4 linked regions of the Homo sapiens genome follow. The protein of the gene in region 3 interacts with the protein of the main gene of each other region in a pairwise test. Each region holds a gene or a part of one and is shown on either strand. Other genes may lie near its edges.

Region 1 (3,122 bases), on a different chromosome or scaffold from region 3:
CAGTCAAATGACTCGCTCATGGTGGCAAGGGGAGAGAACCCTGTTAGGAGCACAAGGTGGAACTGGGGTCACACAGAGAGGCTGTGGCTTGGCTCCTGGCAAAGAGGCCTCTGCATTCAAAACACAGCCAAGAGACCCGGCATAGGAAATGCCAGTTCAGAGTAGGTGGGGATGGGGAAGGGGTGCTTCTGGGAAACCAGGAATCCCACATGTTTCTTTCTGTATTTAACTCGGGGTAGGAAGAGGTCAGGAAAAAAACCAGGAAGCAGAAGTTGTTTTCTTATCTAGGCCCTAGCAGATCTAGGGGGAGGGGGCTTTTCCTGGGTCAGTGACTCATTTCCTGTCCCAGCCAGCGTCTAGCCTCCACTGTCCCGACTGTCCCCAGCGTGGGAGAAGCAGGGGCAGGGAGCCACCCCACTCTACTCCTTATGAGCAGTACTCCCACCCTCTCCTGACTCCCAGGAAGGGACTTTAGGAATATGGATAAAGGAACCCTTAACCAGAGCTCTGGAGTACAGAACTTAGAGACGGGAATGGGCTGTGCCTGCCCCTCCTGATCCAGAAAACAGTGGAATGCTAGAGAGGTGCTGGACTAATGAATGGTAGAAGAGGCCAGTGTGAGAGGTTGGGCCTTCCCTCCCGGGGAATCAGCCAAGCAATGGGAACTTCAGAGGCTCAGCTTAGGTTCAAGCAGGAAGGAAATCCTGCAAGCTGGACACAGCCAGTCTTCCCTAGCTAGACCCTCTGCCCTCATCCCCCCACCCCCGCTGTGTCACACCAGCTTGGACAGCCTTGGCCTGTAACATCTGCAGCAGCTGTGGCGGCACAGATGGCCAGATGTCAGGTTTTGCCAGCAATGGGGAGAAAAAAGGAAAATGAAGTGTCGGGGGAGGCAGAGGGGAACTGGAGACAGACTGGGAGTGCAGTGTACCCCCTGCCACCTCCTGCTAACATCTGGCAAAACCCCAGGATCTTTCCATCCCCTGGGGTCATGATTTCCCTCCTACTGCCTCTGGGAGAGAAGGTCTCTCCCACCTTTTCCGATTTCTCAGGGTTTGGGACTAGGGAGCTGAAAGGAGAGAGAGCAAGAGCCACTGAAGACATTTTCTCCCCAATCAGGCCCCATCTTGGGTGGGGAGTAGGACAAGGGGGAGCCCTGAGAGCTGCTGCTGGAGACACCCAGCCCCCGACCAAACCTCAGACACTTTCCATTTTCTCAGGAACAAAGCATGTTTGTGGGATGAGGTCATCCACACAGCTGCCTCTGGAACAGGAGCCTAGGGAGTGGAGCGGTAGGGAAGTGGGGTTCCCAGACCTTTCTGCTGCCCCGGATTCCAGTCTCTAGCCCCAAAGTCAGAGCTCCCACCCCTGCTCTCCTCCATCATGAAGGCTGCTCTCTAAGGGCTGGGATCCTGGGGTAGTGGAGAGGAACCACCAGGACCCATAGGAAGGAGATGTTCTCACAGCTGTGGATGAGCCCGGGGAAGTTACAGGGACACACAAAGGAATCCACCAACCCACTCTCCCACAAGGCTCCAGTGCTGGCAGTCGCCAGGGCCTGCCCTGGCTCAAGCTGAAGGAGAAGTCCTCCTTTTCTCATCCACCCCCAGTGCGAAATTCTTGACAACAAGCGCTGCTCTGGCTTGAAGTTCAGACTCCAGGCACCAGCAGATGCCCCCAGCTTGGAGGCCTGACTCTCCATACATCAAGCCTCTGCGCAATGGGAGAACAGCCAGCTTGCGCTCCAGGCCAGGGCATGAGGCCACCAGGGGCCAGGGTCTTTAGAGCTGGAACTCCTGGGCTGGGGGCTATGGTGTAGAGAAGATACTCCTCTTTCTCAGCCCCCTTCCTGCCACTCAGGCCCAGGTTTCCTCTGGCCCAACATCTGAGGATTGCCTGGGCTGTCAGCCACGGGGCAGCAGGGGGCCACACAGGTGGAATGCGTCCACAGGGGGTGCCTGGGCCTCTTCCTTCCTTCTTGGCTTGGCCCACTGCGGCTGCCACCTTCTCAGGCCCAGGCTAGACTTGGGTCCACCCCCTGAGAGACAGTCAGCACTCCGAAACCAGGGCAACCCAAATAGGGTATGGGCATGGCTTCTATTTCCTTCCCAGAATCCCCCAATGCCCTAGTCTATCCAGCTGGGCTCTGGTGAGGACAGAGTAAAGGGCACCAACAAGGCCCACCTGTCTCTGCCCATACCCCTCTCCCTGCCCTTTTCCCTGGCAAGGCTGGGGACTGCGGGGACTGAAGGGAGCCAGCCTTGTATTCCTTCCTGACCGGCAGTGGGGCGGGGTTTGGGGGAGACTGCTCCTCTACAGATGGCTCACAACCCTGCACCTCCAACAATCTCCCCTCACAAGGCACCTCCCAGTGAACCTCCTGGAGCTCAGAATGACTGCGTAACTGGCTATGGTGTATGGAGCAGCTCAAGCTGTAAGGTTTGAATCCTGGCTCCTGCACTTACTGGCTGAGTGATCTTGGGCAAATCCCTAAGCCTGTTTTCCCATCTAATTAAATGAGATACTACCACTTCCTACCTCCTAAGTTTGTTGTCAGGCTTAAATGTGATGATACTTGTAAAGCACCTGGCAGATAATAAATACTCAGAAAATGGTAGCTATTAGTATTTTACTATTAGCGCCCTCACTCATACTGGGGCCAGATAGCAGTTTCACAGGCAGGTCTGGGTCAAGCAGCTGGACTGGAATTTTTTTTTTTTTTTTGAGACAGAGTCTCGCTCTGTCGCCCAGGCTGGGGTACAGTGGCGCAATCTCGGCTCACTGCAACCTCCACCTCCCGGGTTCAAGTGATTCTCCTCCCTCAGCCTCCCGAGTAGCTGGGACTACAGGCACCTGCTACCACGCCCGGCTAATTTTTTGTATTTTTAGTAGAGACGGGGTTTCACTGTGTTAGTCAGGATGGTCTCGAACTCCTGACCTCATGATCTCCCTGCCTCAGCCTCCCAAAGTGCTGGGATTACAGGCATGAACCACCACACCCTGCCTGGACTAGAATTTTTAAATAGAGATGGGGTCTCAATATGCTGCGCAGGCTGGTCTCAAACTCCTGGGCTCAAGCTATCCTCTTGCCTTGGGTTCCCAAAGTGCTGGGATTACAGGCA
Region 2 (3,079 bases), on a different chromosome or scaffold from region 3:
TGTCTGCCTTCTTTCATTTAGCACAGTGTTTTCAAGGTTCATCCACATTGTAGCATGAATCAGTACTTCATTCCTTTTTATGGCCAAATAATATTCTACTAATTGAATATCTCAAATTTTGTTTTTTATTGACTGAACATTTCTGTAGTTTGCACTTGTTGGCTGTTGTGAATAATGCTGTTTGTAATGCTAATTAGCATGTGCGTACATCCTTTGTTCTTAATCTTAGGGGAAAGGCTTTCAGCCTTCATCTTCGAATATGATGTTAGATGTAGTTTTTCTTAGATGCCATTCTTTAGATCAGGTTGAGGAGTTCCCTTCTATTTCGACTTGAGTGTTTTTATCATGAAATGTTGGATTTTGTCAAATGCTTTTTCTATGTCTATTGATGATCATGAGGGCTTGTTTATTAATATAATGTATTACATCGATTGTTCTTTATTAATATGTTATTAATATCTTTGTTCTTTATTAATATGTATTACGTCGATTGACTTTCATATGTTGAATGTTATGATATTCTATAGAGCATATATAATGTTATTTTACTGCTTTGGTTTTATATAATATGAACCAATTTCTCTATATTTCAGGCATTTATTAATACAGCAAAAGAAATTTATGAAAAAATTCAAGAAGGAGTCTTTGACATTAATAATGAGGTATATACATATAAATATTGTTGGTCAATATTAATTTAGAGTTCACTTTTGATTACTATTTTATATTTTTTATTTTATAATTCATTATTTTATAATTTTTTTAATTCCTAAAATCAATCATGATAATCAGTTAACACCATTAGTTTACAGTCATCCAACTGAAAAATTGGTATATGTGGTATAGTAGTTAAATATTTATGTTCTAGTAGAGCAACACTTTGTCTATGGAAATGGATTAAAGTAAGTGGCCCTATCCATTCATTGCAAGCAATGCAAAATAATATAAATCCCCCAAAGAGAAAAGAAAATCCACTTTTATCCACATGACCATATGGTGTCATCTGCTTTGGGAATAATGTTCTGGTATATAAATGCATGTACTATGTACTAATGCAAGATGCTCTCTCTGTTATCTGGCAGGAAAGAGGGAAATACCAAATTTGGAAATTACTCCCAATATAGCATAGCATGTTTTCAGGAGACTAAATTCATATATATATATATAAAATTGGCATTTGGCATAGGGTTTTTTGTAATGTTATTTTGATCCTGTTTTGGTCAACATGATTAGGATAAAATGTAAAGCTTTGAAGCATCTAATTCAGAGTGTTCACCAAAGATCATCACTTGACCCACATCCCCACTCTGCATTTATCTGTATTTATTTCAAAATGTTTATGTGGATGTAGCCTACTTATTCTTACATAAATATTTTTGCCATTCTGTATTAAGATTTCTGGCTTCTGAAAGAAAAGCCCTGGTTTCTCCCCAGTTGCAGTTAGAAAAGCATTGTGTTAGGAAGCCATTATGTATGTCTCTCTCATCCTATACATAAATGAGGCTCTCTATTACTTCAGTAGTCTCTGCTCAGACAAACAGCAGTTTACCTAAGGTTTCCAAAAAGTACATGATTTTTTCATTGTTTAATTTGGAGTAATATAGTTTCTAAATCCTATCTTCTAGGCTTATATGACGGTACTTCTTGAGTTAGTTTAAAGGTGACACCATTCAGAGACTAATGCCATATAAATTGAACAGTAATTGGGCCTCTATCTAAAAGGGCACATTCATTGTTTCTGTCTGGTTTCATATAGTAGCTGACTGCTTTACTGTGCCTTATGCAGCTTTGATTGTAATGTGCTGTTGGGAGCCAACAGGCCGTGCTATTTATTTGGCCTAATGCCAAGTCTGACTCCTTGACTCCTCAAGAAGTTGCTACCAGCCCAGAGGGGGCAAAATCAATGAGCCATAGGGCATGCTTTTTATTAAAGAGGAGTCAAAAGAGCGAAAAGAAACCACATCAGCTGCTGTCAATACTGAGCTAGTGCCAGAAACCCCAAGGCTACTACTGTTGCAGAACAACTGCCAAGCACTATAAATCTGAGATTTACTGTGACGTAAAGTTTCCTTAAGAGCTTAATTTCTGAAGCTACTGTATTACTTTTCTCAAAGTGTTGTATTTTTAGGTAAAATCCACTTGAGGGAGTGAGGGTTAAGACATAAGTGTGAGTTTGATGAATGAAAGAACTACTCTGTGTGTGGGTTCTTGGCAAGCTGCCATGTCTTTGGGGATCATAGAAATTATTGATGACACAGAACACTCATATGCCCTTAGCCTGTACAGCTGATTCAACATGGAACAGAAACACTGTCTAGAGAAAAGATTTTACGTTGTATTAAAGCAGCATGGGCTTTGGGTATTTTTATGCTTTAAAGATTACTTGCAATAATTATTTTAAATGATTTCTGCATTATGAGAATTTCCTGAAAAGCAGCATTATCCAATAACTGTTTACCCCGTACCTGGTATGATAAAGAATTATTTTCAGAAACATTTCCACAGTGTTTTTAAAAGGAAGGAACATCCCTTAGGAGATATTGTTTTAATTGTTGCTAAAATCTACTTGCTGTATTTTTCTCAGTTGTTTGATAAAATTGTATCATAAAGAATTAAATGAGTTTTTTAAGAATTAGTTAAACTATATTGTCTGGTCATATTTATTGTTCTGTTCTCTTTTATTTCAGGCAAATGGCATTAAAATTGGCCCTCAGCATGCTGCTACCAATGCAACACATGCAGGCAATCAGGGAGGACAGCAGGCTGGGGGCGGCTGCTGTTGAGTCTGTTTTTACTGTCTAGCTGCCCAACGGGGCCTACTCACTTATTCTTTCACCCCCTCTCCTCCTGCTCAGCTGAGACATGAAACTATTTGAAATGGCTTTATGTCACAGAAGACTTTAATCCGTCAAATTCTTGTATAACTTTGAATAAATGGTTAATGTTCACTTAAAAGACAGATTTTGGAGATTGTATTCATATCTATTTGCATTTGATTTCTAGGTCAATTGATGTGATTATTTTTGTTAAATGTTGTCTTGTGCCCTTAACTACGAACTGAATTGTATTAAACACTACA
Region 3 (3,936 bases):
GATTCCAGCCCGGGTGACAGAGTGAGACTCCATCTCAAAAAAAAAAAAAAAAAAAAAAAAAAAGACTCAACTATGGCTATGGCTCTGTGTGTGTGTGTGTGTTTGTGTTCACATGGGTTATCATGTGTACTGTCATTTCAATAAAGATATTATAATCTTATTGAATTGAAAATATTTGCAATACCTAGCAAAATTCTTTACAGCTTTTTTTTTTCTCAATACAATCTGATGGTAAAGAATAGAGCATAAATGTGATGTTTAAGGCTCTTTTCATTCCATAGCCAGGGTATGAATGTCTAGGTAAAACTCAAAAATTGCATCAACAGTTTGAGGGTGAGTCAAAACATAAAATTTATCATGGCTATAGAAACAGAAAAAAAAAAATACATTGCCAATAAAATAGTTATTTCCCCTGGTAACAGAAATAAATTTCCTAATAAAAATAGAAGTTAAAAAGAAAATGAAAATTATACCTAAGCACTTTAAACATTTCACTGAACATAATTCCATATCCACAAACACATACACGTGGTCTTACATAAATTGAATCTCACCTATACTATGAGTTTGAAATCAGTTTTTCTCTTATTCTTTAAGAAAAAAAAAGGTCAGGGATATCTTTTCATGTCAATAAATAGGAAAACTACGTAATCATTTTTAGGGCTGCAGACTGTCCCGTCACAGAAGCTCCATAATTTATTTAAGCAATCCCCTATTGTAAGACACTAATGCTGTTTATAATTTTTTACTCTACAACAAACATTGATAAACATCCTGTACCAATCTGTTTACCAATTTATCCAATTCTCTCTTTAAAATAAATGTCTACAACTAGAGGAGCTGGATAAATGAGTATACAGAGAATGTATATTAAACTCTTGCCTTGCACAGAAAATTTACCTCTAACCCTTTTGAAAGCAATTTGCCAGAATGCATTAAGGTCCCTAGATGGTAGGTTGGTGGCGGGGTAGTGGTCTGCTGAGCTGTGGAGGGCGGTGGGGCTGAGGGTGGGGTGGAGAGGGCGGTGCCCCTGCTCTGAGGCAGGGACTACTGGGTGACAGAGACAAAGGGGTGTGTGATGGGGCAGGTCACAATGGGTAGGGGAGGATAAAAGTGGTCCTGCGGGGTGGTTTAGCAGCAGTGGATGGTTCAGGTTGGGAAGAAGAGCAGTGGGATTGCCAGTTAAGGTTGTGGAATCAAAGAGCAAAGGCTGTTGTGAAGTGGAATATCAGGCTCAAATGGAGGTCCCTCCCGAATGAGCACTGACACCTGTGTGCCCGGACATCCACGAGGGCCCCAACACCTGTGCTCCTGACAGCTCCATGCACTAAGCAGGGCACAGTCTGGATCCAGGGGACTGACTGTCTCTGGCATTGAGCGGTTGGTAATCAATACCCCACCCTCCCTGTTCTCAGTCACTTGGGGACAAAAAAGAAAGCCTGCAGAACACGACTGCTGGCCCACCTGCCAGAGTAGCCAAGGAAACAGGATGCCCGCTAAAGCATGTTAAGGAAGGTGTGGAGCAGCTGCTGGGAACTGTCTTGATTTAAAGGAAGACATGGAGGACTGCTGTATGCTACCGTATTACACGGCCCAAAGCAGCCCCGCAATGGGCATGTTTAACACCTCCATGGGGAAGCTGCAGCGGCAACTGTACAAAGGCGAGTATACTATATTCAGGTATGCACCCATGTTTGAGAGCGACTTTATCCAGATCAGCAAAAGAGGAGAAGTGATTGACGTGCACAACCGTGCCCGAATGGTAACAATGGGCATCGTTCGCACCAGCCCCTGCCTCACACTACCTGATGTCATGCTGCTGGCCCGACCAGCTGCTGTCTGTGACAATGCCAGGTGTGGTCCTGCCACCCAGAAAAGAGAAAGTCCGCCTGCAGAGATCTTAGAACTAACCAGGCTGCTTCCCTTGATGTTTGTGAAAATAACCATCCACAACAGCGTAAAAAAACAGCTCCACCTGAAGCTTGCCACGGGCCGCTCTTTTTATCTTCAGCTGTGTCCTCCATCGGATGCAAGTGAAGACCTTTTTGTTCACTGGGAAAACCTTGTTTACATCCTGAGACCACCAGTGGAGGCTTACAGTGATACCAGGGCTATCCTAGCTGGGAACACATTGGACTCATCTGTGTTGGAGGAAGTGCAGAGGAGCCCAGTGGTGAGTCTATGCAGAGACTAGATGGGGCCTGGATGCTTTGGGGGAGAGCAGGTACAGGTCCTGTAAAGCCTTTGGTGCTGCAGCTCACCTGGGAAATGCATTGCATTTGGAAGGTCTGAAGGCCAAATGAGCTTCCATTTGGAGGCCATGGTACATTGAGGAGGTTCCTAGTGCTTCTCCAGGGTTCTCCAAGCCTGAATTTCAGAGATTTCTTAGCTGTCAGCAACTCTTCATTTTATATCCACAGCTGTTCATTTTATATCAATGTTGTAATGCTGTCCAAAGCATCCTGACCAGTCTATTCTGAAACACATACTATGACCTAGGCAGGCTGATATGTTGTAGGACGTGTCTCCCTGCAATTGCCACTTATATACATTGGTGGCAACACAACATGTTTGTGTACTTGTGCAATAATTTCTTTTTGTTGTTTACCTATAGGAAGAGAAAGGAGATCTTGCTGGTCTCACTGTCTTTGCTTATTTGTTCTCTCCCTAGGGATATGCCATGAAGTTTTGTGAAGAGAAGGAGCAATTCAGAATCAGTAGACTTCACATGAATGCTGAAATGTTTGGGTCCACCTATTGTGATTATACAATAGAGATATGAATCCAACATACCTCCCACATATACTACGTTCAAGAGTTCACACACCCCTGCAGTCATAAAACCTATAGTGCCTGATGAAGGGGCAGGGTAGCAACAGCAGTAGTGATGACAGTAAGCACCACCACAGGTACCATGGATGTGGCTGCAACCAAGTCTGCAGACTCAGGAGAGAAACACAGCACTGGCAAAAGCAGCCTTCAGAGGTCCAGGAGGAAGTATAGCCAGCATGGCTATTAGTGGGTGCTTCCATGTCTTAATCTTGTTATAGCAAGGGCTGCATGCACATTCTTGTCCTAAAAGGGTACTTCAAGCATATCAGTAAGTGCTACTGGCCTCTCCCTAGAGAGCAGTATGAATGTGGTGGCTACAGGAGCAGAGAGATACTGAGAAGGCTGTTGCATTGACAGTATCTCTCTGCTACTCAAAGGCTGACTCTCTGCTACTCAGCATTGGGAGTCAGTTATCTCAACTCTGCAGGATGAGGCCACATGCGTGAATGGGATGGAAGCCAGAGGGTCTCTACCTAGCTGGATTGACTCTGCAGTAATAACCTCAAAGCCCAGTACTACACATGGTGCAGAGGTGGACATCTCACCTAAGACTGTGGAGGGGAACAATGTGATTCACCATAATAAAATCCATCAACTCAAATTATCTGCTCTAATAACATATGCTCTATTGACAGGAAGGGTAGCAATAAAACTAATGGCAATTTATGATCAGGCTCTGAAAACTATCTTTAACTTTCCCTTAACTTTATATTTTTTAAATAAATTAATAGATGACAGAATAAAATGTTGAAGATTACTCTCAGATATGATCCTACATTAGGAGAATTATTCTAAAACTGTTTTCCAAAATATAAAATGAGAACCCAGGAATACACACACACAGACTCTCTCTCTCTCTCCTCTCTCTCTCCAGGTTTGAATCACAGCATTGCCACACATTAACTGTGAGTTTCAGTAGATTGTTTCTTTAAATGGTCACCTTGAGACCATACATGTATAATATCTGGAACATAGTAGGCACTGTGTAAATGGTAGTGTTGAGAAACAAATTCTGAGTTTAATCATACTTTCCAGAAAGGGCTTAATTTTCCCAGTCTCTTCATTCTTGATTTCCTTTCTTAAATCTTAATTAACTGCTTTGCA
Region 4 (3,500 bases), on a different chromosome or scaffold from region 3:
ACTCCAGCCAGGGCGACAGAGTGAGACTTTGTCTCAAAAAAAAAAAAATTATTTCATTCTTAAATAGCAACAGTTACTTACTAAAGACCTCTATGTGTCTGTTGGGCACTGCATAGCTTCTCAAACCTTGGAATCACGATTGCACACTGCTACTCTCATTTCCCATTTCATATTGATTTTTGTGTAGTGCTTGCTTTTTTATAACAGCAACTGCCAGAAACAGCTTCTCAGAGATATGAAGATATTGAACGAATTTTATCATGGTCTGATATTGACATTGCAACTGTCTTAAGCTTGTAATTCATGTAGTAAGTATCCTTGTGTTGAGTGTTACTGTGTTTTTCTCAAAAGTTTGAGGTATCCCATGGCACCCTTGTGAGTTTGTAGTAGTGCCCAGAGTGTACTATTTGAGAACTGTGGCCACAGGCTAATTGGTTTTTTGTTTGTTTGTTTGTTTTCATTTGTTTGTTATGAGATGGAGTTTCACTCTTGTCACCCAGGCTAGAGCACAATGGCATGATCTCGTCTTACTGCAACCTCCACCTCCTGGGTTCAAGCGATTCTCCTGCCTCAGTCTCCCGAGTAGCTGGGATTACAGGCATGTGCCACCAAGCCCAGTTAATTTTTTTGTATTTTTAGTATAGACGGGGTTTCTCCATGTTGATCAGGCTGGTCTTGAACTCCTGACCTCAGGCGATCCGCCTGCCTCGGCCTCCCAAAGTGCTGGGATTACAGGCGTGAGCCACCACACCCATCCTGCTAATTATTTTTAGTGTATCAGTCAATGTATTGAAAACGACTGTGCCAGATTCTGAGTTTGCAAGGTGGAAAAAAGTCGTCCCCCTGCTCTTGTGCAGCTTACAGTCTAGTGGGGGCATAGATGTTAAATATAAAATTATTTGTATCAAATTGTAAATTGTGATAAATGCAATGGAGGAAAAAGGGTGCTACGAAAGAATAACAGGGTACCTACTTTTGATTAGGAGTGATATTAAGCTGGGATCTGAAGGATGGGCAAGAGCCTGCTGGGCAAAGATTTTTTTAAAAGGGTATTACTTGGGGGGAACAAACTATACAAACACCTTGAACTTGGAAGAAGCTTGACACGTTTATTGAAAGAAACCTAGTGTGATTGGACTAAATCAAGAGGGAATAGTGCAAGATGAGGTTGGAAAAGTAGGTAGGGACCAGATTTTATAGCACCTTAGAGGCCTGAGTAAGGGTTTTGGATTTTATTCTAAATACATGGAAATTGAAGCTTGGGAGATGGGGGATTAAAAATAATAATAAATAAATACACCTGAAGCATTTTAAAGTTTTAAGTAGAGAAGTGGCTTGATCAGATTTTAAAAGATCACTCTGGAGGAGAACAAGGACTGAAGTAGTATCCCAGTTGCAATAGTCCACATGAGAAAGAATGGTAGCTTGGTCTAGGAAGTGACCCTGGAAAGAGAAAGAAAGGATAATTTTAAGGTACATATTGGAAGTACTTCACTTTGGAATGGATTAGATATTTGGAGTAGGGAGCAAAGGGTATCAATAATAACACTTTGGTTTTTGGCTTATGCCATTTACTGAGATACAGAAGCCTGCAGCAAACACAGGCTAGGGGAAAAGAAGTTCCATTTTGATGTGTTAAGTTTGAAGTCCGTTTTATGTATCAGTGTGGAAATGAAGAATTCACAAATGTACAAATCTGGTGCTTAGTCAAGCATCTGGGCTAGAGGTACAAATTTGGGAGGGTTGACATTTAGATCTTCCCTGGTCTTCACACAGCTGATGGTATAATAAATTAAAATATTGTAGATTTGTTGTTCTTTAATGGTCTTACACTTTTTTTCCAAGGAGTTGGAAAACTGGAAACCTCCCAAATGAAAATTTTCAAATTGAAAAATACGAATCACAAACAGCCCAACCTTGCCTTATTCTTCAGTTTGTTTTTTTGGTTTTGTTTTTTTTTTGCGACAAGGTCTCGTGCTGTTGCCCAGGCTGGAGTACAGTAACGTGCTCAGCTCACGGCAACCTGTTTCCAGGGCTCAAGAGATCCTCTCACCTCAGCCTCTCACGTAGCTGGGACTACAGGCATGTGTCACCACGCTCTGCTGATTTTTAAATTTTTGTAGAGACAGGGTCTCACTGTATTGTGCAGGCTGTTCTTAAACTCCTGGGCTCAAGTAATCCTCCTGCCTCAGCCTCCCACAGTGCTGGGATTATAGGCATGAGCCACCACGCCCAGCTCTGCAGCCTTTTATCCTGTTTTTCATAAGGTCTTTTGTTGCCATTTTTATTCCCTTTTTCAGTCCTTAGCTCTTATCTTTTTTTTCACCTAATTTTATCCATATCACTGTCTCTGAATTCCCTGGTGGCAAGCTGCTTTTATATGCACTAGTAACGAAACCAGTGAGACTTAAGACAACTGTGTTTTCCTTATTCCTGGCTCATTCTCTTCTTGTGGCTTGATTCCAGTAAAAAAGGAAGATGCTCATCACTGCTGGATGGGACATCTTATGACTTTTCTGCTTTCTAGTAACTAGAGTTTTCCTTTTTTTCTTCCCCGCCCAAGAGACAGTCTTGCTCTGTCGCTGAGGCTGGAGTGCAATGGCGCGATCTCAGTTTACTGCAACTTCCGCCTCCCATGTTCAAGCAATTCTCTTGCCTCAGCCTCCCGAGTAGCTGGGATTACAGGCACCTGCCACCATACTCAGCTAATTTTTGTATTTTTAGTAGAGACGGGATTTCACCATCTTGGCCAGGCTGGTCTTGAACTCCTGAACTCGTGATCCACCTGCCTCGGCATCCCAAAGAGCTGGGATTACAGGCATGAGCCACTGTGCCCAGCCAAGTTTTTTTTTTTCCTCATCTATACTTTGCTCTCCTTGATCTCATTGGAAAAACAAGCAATAGAGCATAAGCTTTGTGTAACTATGGGGGCTTGCCTAACCCTTGATAAGCCATTTTCTCTGTAATAGAGTGAGGTATTATCTTCAACTATGCAGCAGCTGTCCCAAAACTAAAGAATATTTTCCAAGATGCTACAAAAATCAGTAACTCTGTATAAGAGTATCATGTAGGATCTACATTCTTTATGAAATAACTGGCAGTTGAAACCACGACGGAATTCTTTTAGAAATAGACTTTCCTCTTTCACTTGGATCTTTTTTTTAAATTTTCTCCTTAATTAATCTCTTGCAGTGACCTAGAGTCCCGCAGGGATGTGAAGAGAGAAGAAGGAGAGGCCTTTGCTAGGGAGCATGGACTTATATTCATGGAAACTTCAGCCAAAACAGCCTGCAATGTTGAAGAGGTACTATTTGGAAAACAGTGGGGAAAGCTCTTTAGAGATTACACCATTATTTGTCCTTGTATTCAGAATTCTCTTCTCCTATAAGAAATTGGTAAAGAAAGGATGTCTTGGCCGAGCGCGGTGGCTCATGCCTGTAATCCTAGCGTTTTGGGAGGCCAAGGCAGGCAGATTGCGTGAGCTCAGGAGTTTGTGACCA

The links.
Region 1: the proteins of GARIN6 (region 3) and FHL3 interact in binary tests that used the Homo sapiens proteins (3 or more experiments, as listed by UniProt).
Region 2: the proteins of GARIN6 (region 3) and RAB2A interact in binary tests that used the Homo sapiens proteins (3 or more experiments, as listed by UniProt).
Region 4: the proteins of GARIN6 (region 3) and RAB2B interact in binary tests that used the Homo sapiens proteins (3 or more experiments, as listed by UniProt).

The regions. Positions count from the first base shown.
Region 1 is NC_000001.11:37,999,393-38,002,514, forward strand, and holds part of FHL3 (four and a half LIM domains protein 3), read right to left. Parts: intron 41-3,122; 5' UTR 21-40; coding exon 1-20. UniProt on the Homo sapiens protein: Recruited by SOX15 to FOXK1 promoters where it acts as a transcriptional coactivator of FOXK1.
Region 2 is NC_000008.11:60,617,987-60,621,065, forward strand, and holds part of RAB2A (ras-related protein Rab-2A), read left to right. Parts: intron 1-593; coding exon 594-662; intron 663-2,687; coding exon 2,688-2,783; 3' UTR 2,784-3,079.
Region 3 is NC_000012.12:99,646,617-99,650,552, forward strand, and holds GARIN6 (Golgi-associated RAB2 interactor protein 6), read left to right. Parts: upstream 1-1,136; 5' UTR 1,137-1,558; coding exon 1,559-2,173; intron 2,174-2,671; coding exon 2,672-2,782; 3' UTR 2,783-3,498; downstream 3,499-3,936.
Region 4 is NC_000014.9:21,463,460-21,466,959, reverse strand, and holds part of RAB2B (ras-related protein Rab-2B), read left to right. Parts: intron 1-1,089; exon of another isoform or gene 1,090-1,443; intron 1,444-3,192; coding exon 3,193-3,304; intron 3,305-3,500. UniProt on the Homo sapiens protein: The small GTPases Rab are key regulators of intracellular membrane trafficking, from the formation of transport vesicles to their fusion with membranes. Rabs cycle between active GTP-bound and inactive GDP-bound states.